2 separate regions of the Homo sapiens genome follow, and region 1 is linked to region 2. The links come from fine-mapping of genetic effects on gene expression. A gene starts in region 2. The other region holds a variant in brackets. All regions are shown on one strand. Distances are between the middles of the regions.

Evidence for each region. PIP is the estimated chance that this variant, and not a neighbour inherited with it, causes the effect.
Region 1: its variant is fine-mapped to the expression of FLCN in whole blood (INTERVAL, PIP above 0.99).

Annotation. Positions count from the first base shown.
Region 1 is chr17:17,263,239-17,268,768 of GRCh38, reverse strand. COPS3 (COP9 signalosome subunit 3) reads left to right here. Exons shown (of 12, transcript NM_003653.4): 5 at 792-884; 6 at 3,788-3,967. Among named protein-coding and RNA genes, the nearest start is that of COPS3, 15 kb to the left of the region's middle. The variant T/C (reference allele first, on the strand shown) is at 2,721.
Region 2 is chr17:17,235,200-17,240,199 of GRCh38, reverse strand. FLCN (folliculin) reads left to right here and starts at 3,032. Exons shown (of 14, transcript NM_144997.7): 1 at 3,032-3,288. RefSeq lists a silencer at 2,086-2,271 and an enhancer at 2,706-2,815.

The DNA of each region.
Region 1 (5,530 bases), 28 kb before region 2:
CAGCTCACTGCAACCTCCGCCTCCCGGGTTCAAGCGATTCTCCTGCCTCAGCCTCCTGAGTAGCTGGGACCACAGGCACATCCCACCATGCCCGGCTAATTTTTGTATTTTTAGTAGACATGGGGTTTTGCCATGTTGGCCAGGATAATCTTGATCTCCTGACCTCATGATCCACCCATCTTGGCCTCCCAAAATGCTGGGATTACAGGTGTGAGCCACCGTGCCCAGCAATTTTGGAAGAGACTATATTTTAGTCTGCCAAAAACTGATTATGCCTTACTTGACACTTGGTCTTCTTATTTATAATCAGGGCAGGAAACAGTCCTTTTGAAATCTATGGTGTTAGTTTTGGTAGTAATTTACTACCAGGTAAGGGGTAGACTGCCCTATGGGAAAATGCCAACACCCTTAGCCACAAGTAATTTTCCTAAGCATAGGCTGTTGTCTCTTGTATAATAAGTGATTTGGAAAGTTTTCATTTGTTTAGATGTTAATATAATAAACTGTTGAGAAAGTAATACTGTTTTTGATTATTGATCTTCATTGTAAAAATAAAAGCTTTTTATGATTTAAAAAATGGTGCTGAGTTATCTAAAAATTCCAAGAAACAGCTTAAGAAAAGTTTTCTGACTTAAATGGGACAGAAATTTCCTGAAAGAGTATGGAAACCTCATATTGCTATTTAAAGGAACCTATCAATTAGTGTTATTTTTTATTTATAAGTGACAACATAAGATCCAATGTGCTGCCATCTTTGAGAACTTATCTGAAAGAGATGTCATTTCTGACAGCCCCTGCGAGGAATTGGCATCCTTAAGCAAGCCATAGACAAGATGCAGATGAATACAAACCAGCTGACCTCAATACATGCTGATCTCTGCCAGGTAAGCAACCAAAGTGTGTGATTCACACCAAGTCAGAGGTGTAGGTTGTTTATGGGCTTGCTCAACATTGGGTTTGATAAACACAGGCAAGTTGGCGATATTGTGATGTGTTATAGAAGTTGGAATATGTAGGTACATCTATTACATTCAGGCGGGTGCTGGATGCAAACTGTAGGATGGGGCTCAACTAGTAAGCTTGTCGAACAGATAGGGTAATTAATAGTTGTAACTTTTTTTTTTTTTTTTTTTGAGACAGTCTCACTTTGTCGCCCATGCTGGAGTGCAGTGGCACAATCTCAGCTCACTGCAACCTCTGCCTCCCGGGTTCAAGCAATTCTCCTGCCTCAGCCTCTCGCGTAGCTGAGACTACAAGCACCCACCACCAAGCCTAGCTAATTTTTGTATTTTTAGTAGAACAGGGTTTCACCATGTTGGCCAGGCTGGCGTTGAACTCCTGACCTCATGATCCACCCGCCTCAGCCTCCCAAAGTGCTAGGATTACAGGTGTGAGCCACCACACCCGGCCCTAGTTGTAACTTTTTTTTTTTTTTTTTTTTGAGACGGAGTCTTGCTCTGTCGCCCAGGCTGGCGCCATCTCAGCTCACTGCAAGCTCCGCCTCCCGGGTTCACGCCATTCTCCCGCCTCAGCCTCCCGAGTAGCTGGGACTACAGGCGCCCGCTATCACGCCTGGCTAATTTTTTTGTATTTTTAGTAGACACGGGGTTTTACTGTGTTAGCCAGAATGGTCTCAATCTCCTGACGTCGTGATCCGCTCGCCTCAGCCTCCCAAAGTGCTGGGATTACAGGCGTGAGCCACTGTGCCCGGCCTGTAACTTTTTTTAAAATCCCGAATCATTTTTTTAAAATTGTGGAGCCTGCCAGGTGCAGTGGTTCACGCCTGTAATCCCAACACTTTGGGAGGCTGAGGCGGGCGGATCACCTGAGGTCCGGAGTTCCAGACCAGCCTGACCAACATGGAGAAATCCCATCTCTACTAAAAAAAAATTGTGGAACCTGAGACTTAACATAGCTAACTTCTTACACCTTAAAATGTTATTCATTTATCTTTTTTTTTTTTATTTTTTGAGATGGAGTCTTGCTCTGTTGCCCAGGCTGGAGTGCAGTGGCATGATCTAGGCTCACTGCAAGCTCCGCCTCCCAGGTTCAAGCAATTCTCCTTCCTCAGCCTCCTGAGTAGCTGGGATTGTGGACGTGCACCACTACACCCGGCTAATTTTTGTATTTTTAGTAGAGATGGGGTTTCACCATTTTGGTCAGGCTGGTCTTGAACTCCTGACTTCAAGCGATCCGCCCACCTCAGCCTCCCAAAGTGCTGGGATTACAGGTGTGAACCACCGTGCCTGGCCTCATTTATTTATCTTATTTTGCGATGTTCAAAGTCCAGAAGGCAAAAGGGCAGGTATATAATGAAGTCTCCTTCCCATTCTGTTTGCTAGCCATCTATTTCTTCTCTACAAAGGAAACTATGTTAGTTATTTCTCGTGTATCCTTCCAAAAACTTTTTATGGACATAAAAGCAAATACGAATATATATTTTCTCATTTTTTACACAAATTGTAATAATCTATGCATACTCTTATGTAGCTTGCTTTTTGTATTTAACATATCTTGGAGATGATTCTGTAGCAGTACTCTACAGGTACGGAGTATTCTATAATATGAGTATGCGATGGTTTTAGAAGTCTGCATGGGATATTTACATTGTTTCCTTCAAGAATAACATGGTATGTGGATTATTTCAAACACATGTTCTAGTTTCATATGAAGATGTGCTTTTTAATGTTTTAAAAAAATTGTGATTGAGGTACAACATA[T/C]AGACAGTAAAATACTAAAGTGTATAGCTCAGTGAGTTTGTACGCATGTCTACACTGCGTCTCCATTAGCTAGATAACTGTTCTAAGGGCTTGCTTTCTTGAGTTGCACAATTCCCTGTATTTACCTAAAGGATTAATTAAAGGAACCACTTCTACTTGTATCACACCATGCTGGTCTCTTTCTATTCCACTAGTTCAGTAAAGAAAGAGGACACACTCTTTTTCCCTCTAATCAGATGGGTAGGGATAGGTTAAGAGATAAGTGAGTCTTGTCTGTAGAGTTCTCTATTCTCAATCATCTATAGCATGCTTGGCCTTATAGCTGTTTAGCTTTTTATAAAGAAATGCTCCCCCAGGTGAGGTGGCTCACGCCTGTAATCCTAGCACATTCGGAGGCCAAGGTGGACGGATCACTTGAGGTCAGGAGTTCGAGACCAGCCTGGCTAATGTGGTGAAACCCTGTCTCTACTAAAAATACAAAAATTAGCTGGGTGTGGTGGTGCACGCCTGTAATCCCAGCTACTCGGGAGGCTAATGCAGGAGAATCACTTGAACCCGGGAGGTGGAGGTTGCAGTGAGCTGAGATGACGCCACTGCACTCCAGCCTGTGTGACAGAGTGAGACTCCATTTCAAAAAAAAAAAAAAAGGTAATGCTGTTTTTTTCTGAATGGCTAAGAAAATGGAGTACAGGTTGACTATTCCTAATCTGAAAATTTGAAACCCAATCCAAAAATTTGAAACCCAAAATGCTCCAAAATCTGAAATCTTTAGAATGCCAACTTGGCACTCAAAGTGCTCATTGGAGCAATTGGATTTCAGGTTTTCAGATTAGGGATGCTTAACTGGTATGTATTCTGCAAATATTCCAAAATTTGAAACACTTGTGGTCCTAAGCATTTCAGATAGCAGATACATGAAATGTGTTGACATTTAGATAATTTTAGTCAATAAAATGTAAAACACAATTACATTATTTGGAAATTTCTGGAATCAATGAATTTTCTCCTTCTGCTAATACCTGCCTAAGTAAAATTAAAGTGATGATTTAATATCAATTTGTTCACAGCTTTGTTTGCTAGCAAAATGCTTTAAGCCTGCCCTTCCATATCTTGACGTGGATATGATGGATATCTGTAAAGAGAATGGAGCCTATGATGCAAAACACTTTTTATGTTACTATTATTATGGAGGGATGATCTATACTGGGCTGAAGAACTTTGAAAGAGCTCTCTACTTTTATGAACAGGTAATCTCTCTAAAAATTAGCTGAGGTTGTTCTGAACTTGTGTGATCAAAAAAGTGCTCCCATAGGTTTGTGGCTAGAGTGGTCTGATCCCAGGGCCTCCGTTTCAGGTGTTGGTCCTTTCAGAGACTACTTCTCTGTGATCATGTAAATAGTGGTAACCTGATCCCTAAGTTGAGGAGCAGCGCCAGTGCATAGAAGAGCACTTGTCTGGGGGTTCTAATCTAGGCTTGCACTTATACCTTATCTGATTTGGAATAAGTTATGACATCTCTTGACCTTTATAGCTTCCTTTGCATATAAGGAAGAGATTGAACTGAGTGATCTTGGTTGTGTCTTATTCTAAAACCATGTGTGGTATTTTGTTAAGTTTTATTTAATCAGTGAAACATTCTCTTGATTCAAAATTTAAAGGGTAGAAAGGAGTACACAGTAAAAGTCCCTCCCACCCTTTCTGTGTCTGTGTAATGAAACATAGTACACAATTTGGTAGAATATTCTGGAGGTTTACTCAGACTCTGAAAAAGAGATACACAATATTGATTAATAAACCACTTTACTTAAGGTAAATTAGTTAGATGTTCGTAAGTTCCTATTTAGTTCATAGCATGTATTAAGTAATAAAGGATATTTAAAACCTTCAGAGAGCTCGGTTTAGTTGGAATTCTAATACATAATACACATGCATACATGTACACACATCCGTGGCTCTGAACCATACCACAATGAGTGGTTGATGTGTCCTGTTGAGGGGACCTGAGGAGGGCCACCATAAGGTGCCAGTAGGCAGAGATGGTGTCATTAAAGCACGTGTCTAGTCAGGTTAAATCTTCAAGGTGGCTTCTCTTTAAGACTACGCATTCGGAAAATTATAAAAATGCACTTCGTAGCCACTGGATGCATTATCATTGCTGTAGCCAAATATAGTTAACTCATGAGCAAACTTGATCTTGAAATATCAGGATGAGTGGGTGTTAAAAAGGTAAGAGGCGTCCGAGTGCGGTGGCTCACGCCTGTAATCCCAGCACTTTGGGAGGCCGAGGCCGGCGGATCACCTGAGGTCGGGAGTTCGAGACCAGCCTGACCAACGTGGAGAAACCCCATCTCTACTAAAAATACAAAATTTAGCTGGGCATGGTGGTGCATGCCTGTAATCCTAGCTACTCAGGAGGCTGAAGCAGGAGAATTGCTTGAACCCAAGAGGCGGAGGTTGCAGTGAGCCGAGATCGTGCCATTGCACTCCAGCTTGGGCAACAAGAGCAAAACTCCATCTCAAAAAAAAAAAAAAAAAAAAGAAAAGGCAAGAGGCTGGGTGAGGTGGCTCACACCTGTAATCCCAGCACACTGGGAGGCCGAGGCAGGCAAATCGCCTGAGGTCAGGAATTCAAGACCAGCCTGGCCAACATGGTGAAAATGTCTCTACTAAAAATGCAAAAATTAGCTGGGCCTGGCAGCAGGCGCCTGTAATCCCAGCTACTCAGGAGACTGAGGCAGGAGAATCTCTTTTTTTTTTTTTTGAAATGGAGTCTTGCTCTGTCGCCCAGGCTGGAGTGCAGTGGCACGATC
Region 2 (5,000 bases):
TCAGTTGCTGGAAGAAACAAAAACTTAGATCATTATTTTTATAACAGGGAATCAATTATAGTAACTTGAAAATATGAGATGTGATTAAAAATATTAAATTGAAATGCTTACAAATGAAATACACCCCTTCTTCCTGAAACTGGAAACTAAGAGTCATTGACATGTGGTTTGACTGAAAGATAAAGCCCAGCTGTATCCTACAGCTACATCAGAGCCCCTGTGGCTAAGGGTACATATAAAAAACTCTAAAACAAATTTCTGAATAAGATGTGACTTTTCCCTGCCACTTGGCTCTATGGTCCTGGCAACTGATGCCTTGGAAGTGATTGATCAGTTTGGATACTCAGCTATAATGAAGCCTCTTGGTTTAGCAGTAGTAAGAAGGCAGAAAAGCATCAAAAAACCTTAATTCTGATTGAGCCTATTTCAGTGGTGGAAAAAAATCTTAATTCTGATTGAGCCTGTTTCAGTGGTGGAAAAAACACATTCTGGATTGTATGCATGCCAGGCAGTAACATATCCAGAGCTTCTGGAATCATTTCATACAATTTCCATTATGGGATAGAAGCTTTGAGATTAGCATTGCATTTCATTTGGTTGTGAATTGTTGAACATTATTGGTATCTGTGCTTTCTGAACATTACTGCTGAGTTTCAATTATCTTTCCCATGAGAATGGGCACATTTTCCGACTTCTAAGATGTCCCTTTTGTTGCATGACCTTGAAAGTTTTTATACCCCATGAGAGCCCAATTTAAATAACCTTTGGTACAATTCACTGAGGCAAAGATTTGGCAGTTGTTAATTTTTTTTTTAAAGATTTATAGGTTTATTTAAGAAAGTACCTCCAAAAGAGGTAGGTGGCTGAAGCCAGTGGTGTTGGGAAAGATGTTAATGGCCTAAATTGAGCCCAGGTGTGGTAAATGCACATTGACTTTTACTGAAAATACACTAGTTGAATAACCTTCCGCCATTAGCCTATCACCATGGAAATAAGGATAATCTGAGCAAGGTGGTGAACTCCACTAACAAACTGAAAAAGGTAATTCCTGGAATTAAAGTTACAAGGTGAAAAAAACCTTGTTCTTGACTTAAAAATCTCATTAACAAACATTAGTTTCAAGAACTTGAACCCGGGAGGTGGAGGTAGCAGTGAGCCGAGATCGCGCCACTGCACTCCAGCCTGGGAGACATAGCAAGACTCCGTCTCTAAAATAAAATAAAATAAAATCACCCTGTAACTTACTACCTCCTCAGAAATTAAGTTTGCGCTGTCCAACAGCAAGAGGAATTCGCTTGATAAGAATAATTAAACACATAAAGGCAATGCCTAACCTCGTAACGCCACCCCATATTCCTTAATCTTTACCAAGCCACTATAAGACGGCAGAAAACACAAGCTGCACTTTCGTTCTTTTCTCGTGTCCCGTTTTCAACAGACCATGGATTTTTTTTTTTTTTTTTAGATGGAGTCTCGCTCTGTGCCAGGCTGGAGTGCAGTGGCACGATCTCAGCTCACTGCAACCTCTGCCTCCCGGGTTTAAGCAATTCTCCTGCCTCAGCCACCAGAGTAGCTGGGACTACAGGCGTGTGCCACCACGCCCAGCTAATTTTTTTTGTATTCTTAGTAGAGAGGGGGTTTCACCTGTTGGCCAGGATGGTCTCCATCTCTTTACCTCGTAATCCGCCCACCTCGGCCTCCCAAAGTGTTGGGATATTATAGGCGTGAGCCACCGCGCCCGACCAGAACATGGAAATTTAAAGAGAAAAAAATAAGTGACTTCTGATTTCAAAAACACAACCACCCACTTTTCTATTCTATTCCTGGTGAGCACATTCTGGAGACTCTGCGGCAACCATAGCCTCGGCCGCGGCGGAAGGCTCCGGGGCGGCCACACCTCAGGGGGCAGCCACACCTCAGGGGGCAGCGCGCACAGGCGGGTCAGGCTCTGATTCCCATCTCTCTCCGGTCTTCACTGGAAGGACCCACACTACATCACAAACTAATGGCTTTACAATTAACTTCTAAGTAGCTAAATTTAGTAATGGGCGCTCTAGTTTTAAAAAATATTATTCAGGCCGGGCGCGGTGGCTCACGCCTGTAATCCCAGCACTTTGGGAGGCCGAGGCTGGTGGATCACCTGAGGTTAGGAGTTCAAGACCAGCCTGGCCAAAAGGGTGAAAACCCGTCTCTGCAAAAATACAAAAAATTAGCCAGGCGTGGTGGCGGACGCCTGTAGTCCCCAGCTACTCGGGAGGCTGAGGCAGGAGAATCGCTTGAACCCGGGAAGCGGAGGTTGCAGTAAGGCGAGGTCGCGCCACTGGACTCCAGCCTGGGCAACAAGAGCGAAAGCGAAACTCTGTCTCAAAAAAAGAATATTATTCAAAAACTGATTTTCACATTTTTAAAAAAGACCCACTGAGGGAGGAAGACCGAATCCCACACATGCGCGCGCACAGCGGTTCCGAGTTCTGCAACCAACCTCCCACGGGCGCCGCGCCTTCTCCGCGTCACGTGACGGCCGTCTCCCGCACCTTCCATACTCTCAATGTAGGGAGAGGACGGGTTCCATCAGCAATTTAATAAAAACCATTGGTGAAGCAAAAAAAAAAAGCCTGCCAACCTCTTATAACGTTTTTTCTTTATTTTTCTCTTTTATGTGGACAGGAAGCCTTAGGTTGGCTATATTTACCCTCAAATCTCTTTTTAAAATGATTTTTAAGTTTCAGCATACTCCCGCGCTTAATGAAATGGTTTCCCCCAGCATCCCCAGCTGGTGCGGTCTGAACCATTCGGAACTTCCCAGAGGGGGGCACCGGAATAGGGGCGGTGGAAAAGGGTAATTGTCGGGCAGCGGCCCCTGCTTCCCAGTCAGACCTCGGAGTTGTAGGACTCGGACTGTGTTCCTGGGCTTGCGAGAGCTAGGGAGGCCCGGCTCTCCTCGCGGTGCAGGACGCGCTCGGACGGCTCCCGCACCCCCACCGCAGTGTTGGGTGGTGGTACGGCTCAGGGAGTCACGCGCCTGGGTGTCGGCGGGGCTGCGGGACCGCGAGTGAGTGTGGTCGCTCCTGGTTCTGCCAGCTCCCCTGAGAGCCTGAACCCGGGCTTGAGAGCCTCGCCACCCCGGGTGACATCCCTGCCGTGGGCTTGGGGGCTCTGGGTGTGATTCCGCCGGTCCGGGTCCCGCAGCGACCACCTACCCAGCGCAGTCAGGGGCGGGGCTGGGACCCAGAGCGGGACCCCGGCTGCCGAGTCCAGGTGTCCCGCGGGCCTCGATTTGGGGAGCAGGTAGGCGGGGGTCTGAGGGGTTGGCGGAGGGGCATGTCCGAGTTTTCGTTGGTCCCAGGTGGACGAGTAATGGGGGAGGGTTTAGGGCCAGAGTCCAGGGCGTCGCCGAGACCCTGAGATTTGAAGATAGGTTGGGGGCACGCCCATTAACCAAGTCTATGGGGATGAGGACTGTGATCTCATTTGATGTTGCCATGAAACGGGACTGTTTGCCTTCCCTTCTCCCAGGTTTTGTCTTCGCTCTGTTTGGAGGAGAGGGTGTGTGTCATCCTCTTCTCCCAGTTTGGCGTTCAGGAGGGTCCTCTGATGCGCTAATAGGGTAGCACCGTGTCCTCCAGGGAGGGTGGAAGACCGCGCTTCTCTCCAGTTGAGAGTACTGTCAGTCGCGTCCTTGTCTCCTGGAAAGAATGGATTGGCTTGTGGATTGAAGTCCAAGGTGTGGTCACTAGCAGTCTCTTCAAGTGGGGACACAGGGCAAGGAGGAGCTTGCTGGAAGTAGGTTCTGGCTCTCTAGCCTTTGGCCACAGCCAGTTTAGTGCCAGATTATCACCGTGGTCATCAAGTAATTGAGTAATAGTGGCAGGTGACACTGCGTTTGCCCTTCTAGTGTCCTATGTCAGGGAGCTCTGTGAATGGAAATCCAGGGAAACGGTGGAAATAGAGCCACAGTGAGAGTGGATCTGAACTGGCAGTCATCCCCTGCAGAACTTTTCACCCTGGGCTTGTTGGGATCCCAGCTGCTAACTTAATGAGGCTCCCCAGTGGGAGACTAGTTATAGAAGCTGTGTGTCCACTGCTGGTTAAGATCCGTTATAGTGCTTTGTTTATTTAGAGTGCCCTTACTTAGTGGCCTCTTTAATTCTCCACGGTGCTATGAGAACACCATAGGAAGTAGGGTTGAAATAGGGCCAGGGCGCACCACGGGTGGTGGTGAGGTCACTGTCCAGGTCTGGGACTCAGCCATTGTGGGAGGGGGACATGAACAGACACTCTACCACATCAGGGAATTTGAATACTGTCTTTGGATATGTTGATGAAGAGACTGTCAGCCAGGGCATTTCGGCTTCCTATGTGGGTTCTGGAAAGCTTGTTGGAAACAGACTCGTGAGACACACTCAAACCAGTTTGTTTTCTTCAGCAAACACCTGGTAGAGATTGGAATTGAACAGTGAGTGAAGAATGACCTCACGCTGCCCAGAATTCTGATTCCATGTGTAATGCGAATTCTGAGAGGCCTCTGTTTCTCAGCTTTTGGGTGGTATTCAGAGAGGTCTAGTAACACTTGGTGTCACCTGGCTGGTGAGGGCAGGCTCCGGTGACCGCAAAGCTAAGTGCTCTGTAGGGCACCTCCCTCTCTTTCAGGGGCTGCCTGGGCCTCTGGTGCACATGATCCATGGAGTCAGAGTCAGAGCTCTCGTCTGACAAGTGCTTTTGCTTTCTTTCTTTCTTTCTTTCTTTTTTGGAGACAGAATCTCATTCTGTCGCCCAGGCTGGAGTGCAGTGATGCGATCTCGGCTCACTGCCACCTCCGCTTCCAGGCTCAAACGATTCTCCTGCCTCAGCCTCCTGAGTAGCTGGCACTACAGGCACGTGCCACCAGGCCTGGCTAATTTTCGTATTTTGTATTTTTTGAAATGGAGTTTTACTCTTATTGCCCAGGCTGGAGTGCAATGGTGCGATCTCAGCTCACTGCAACCTCCGTCTCCCAGGTT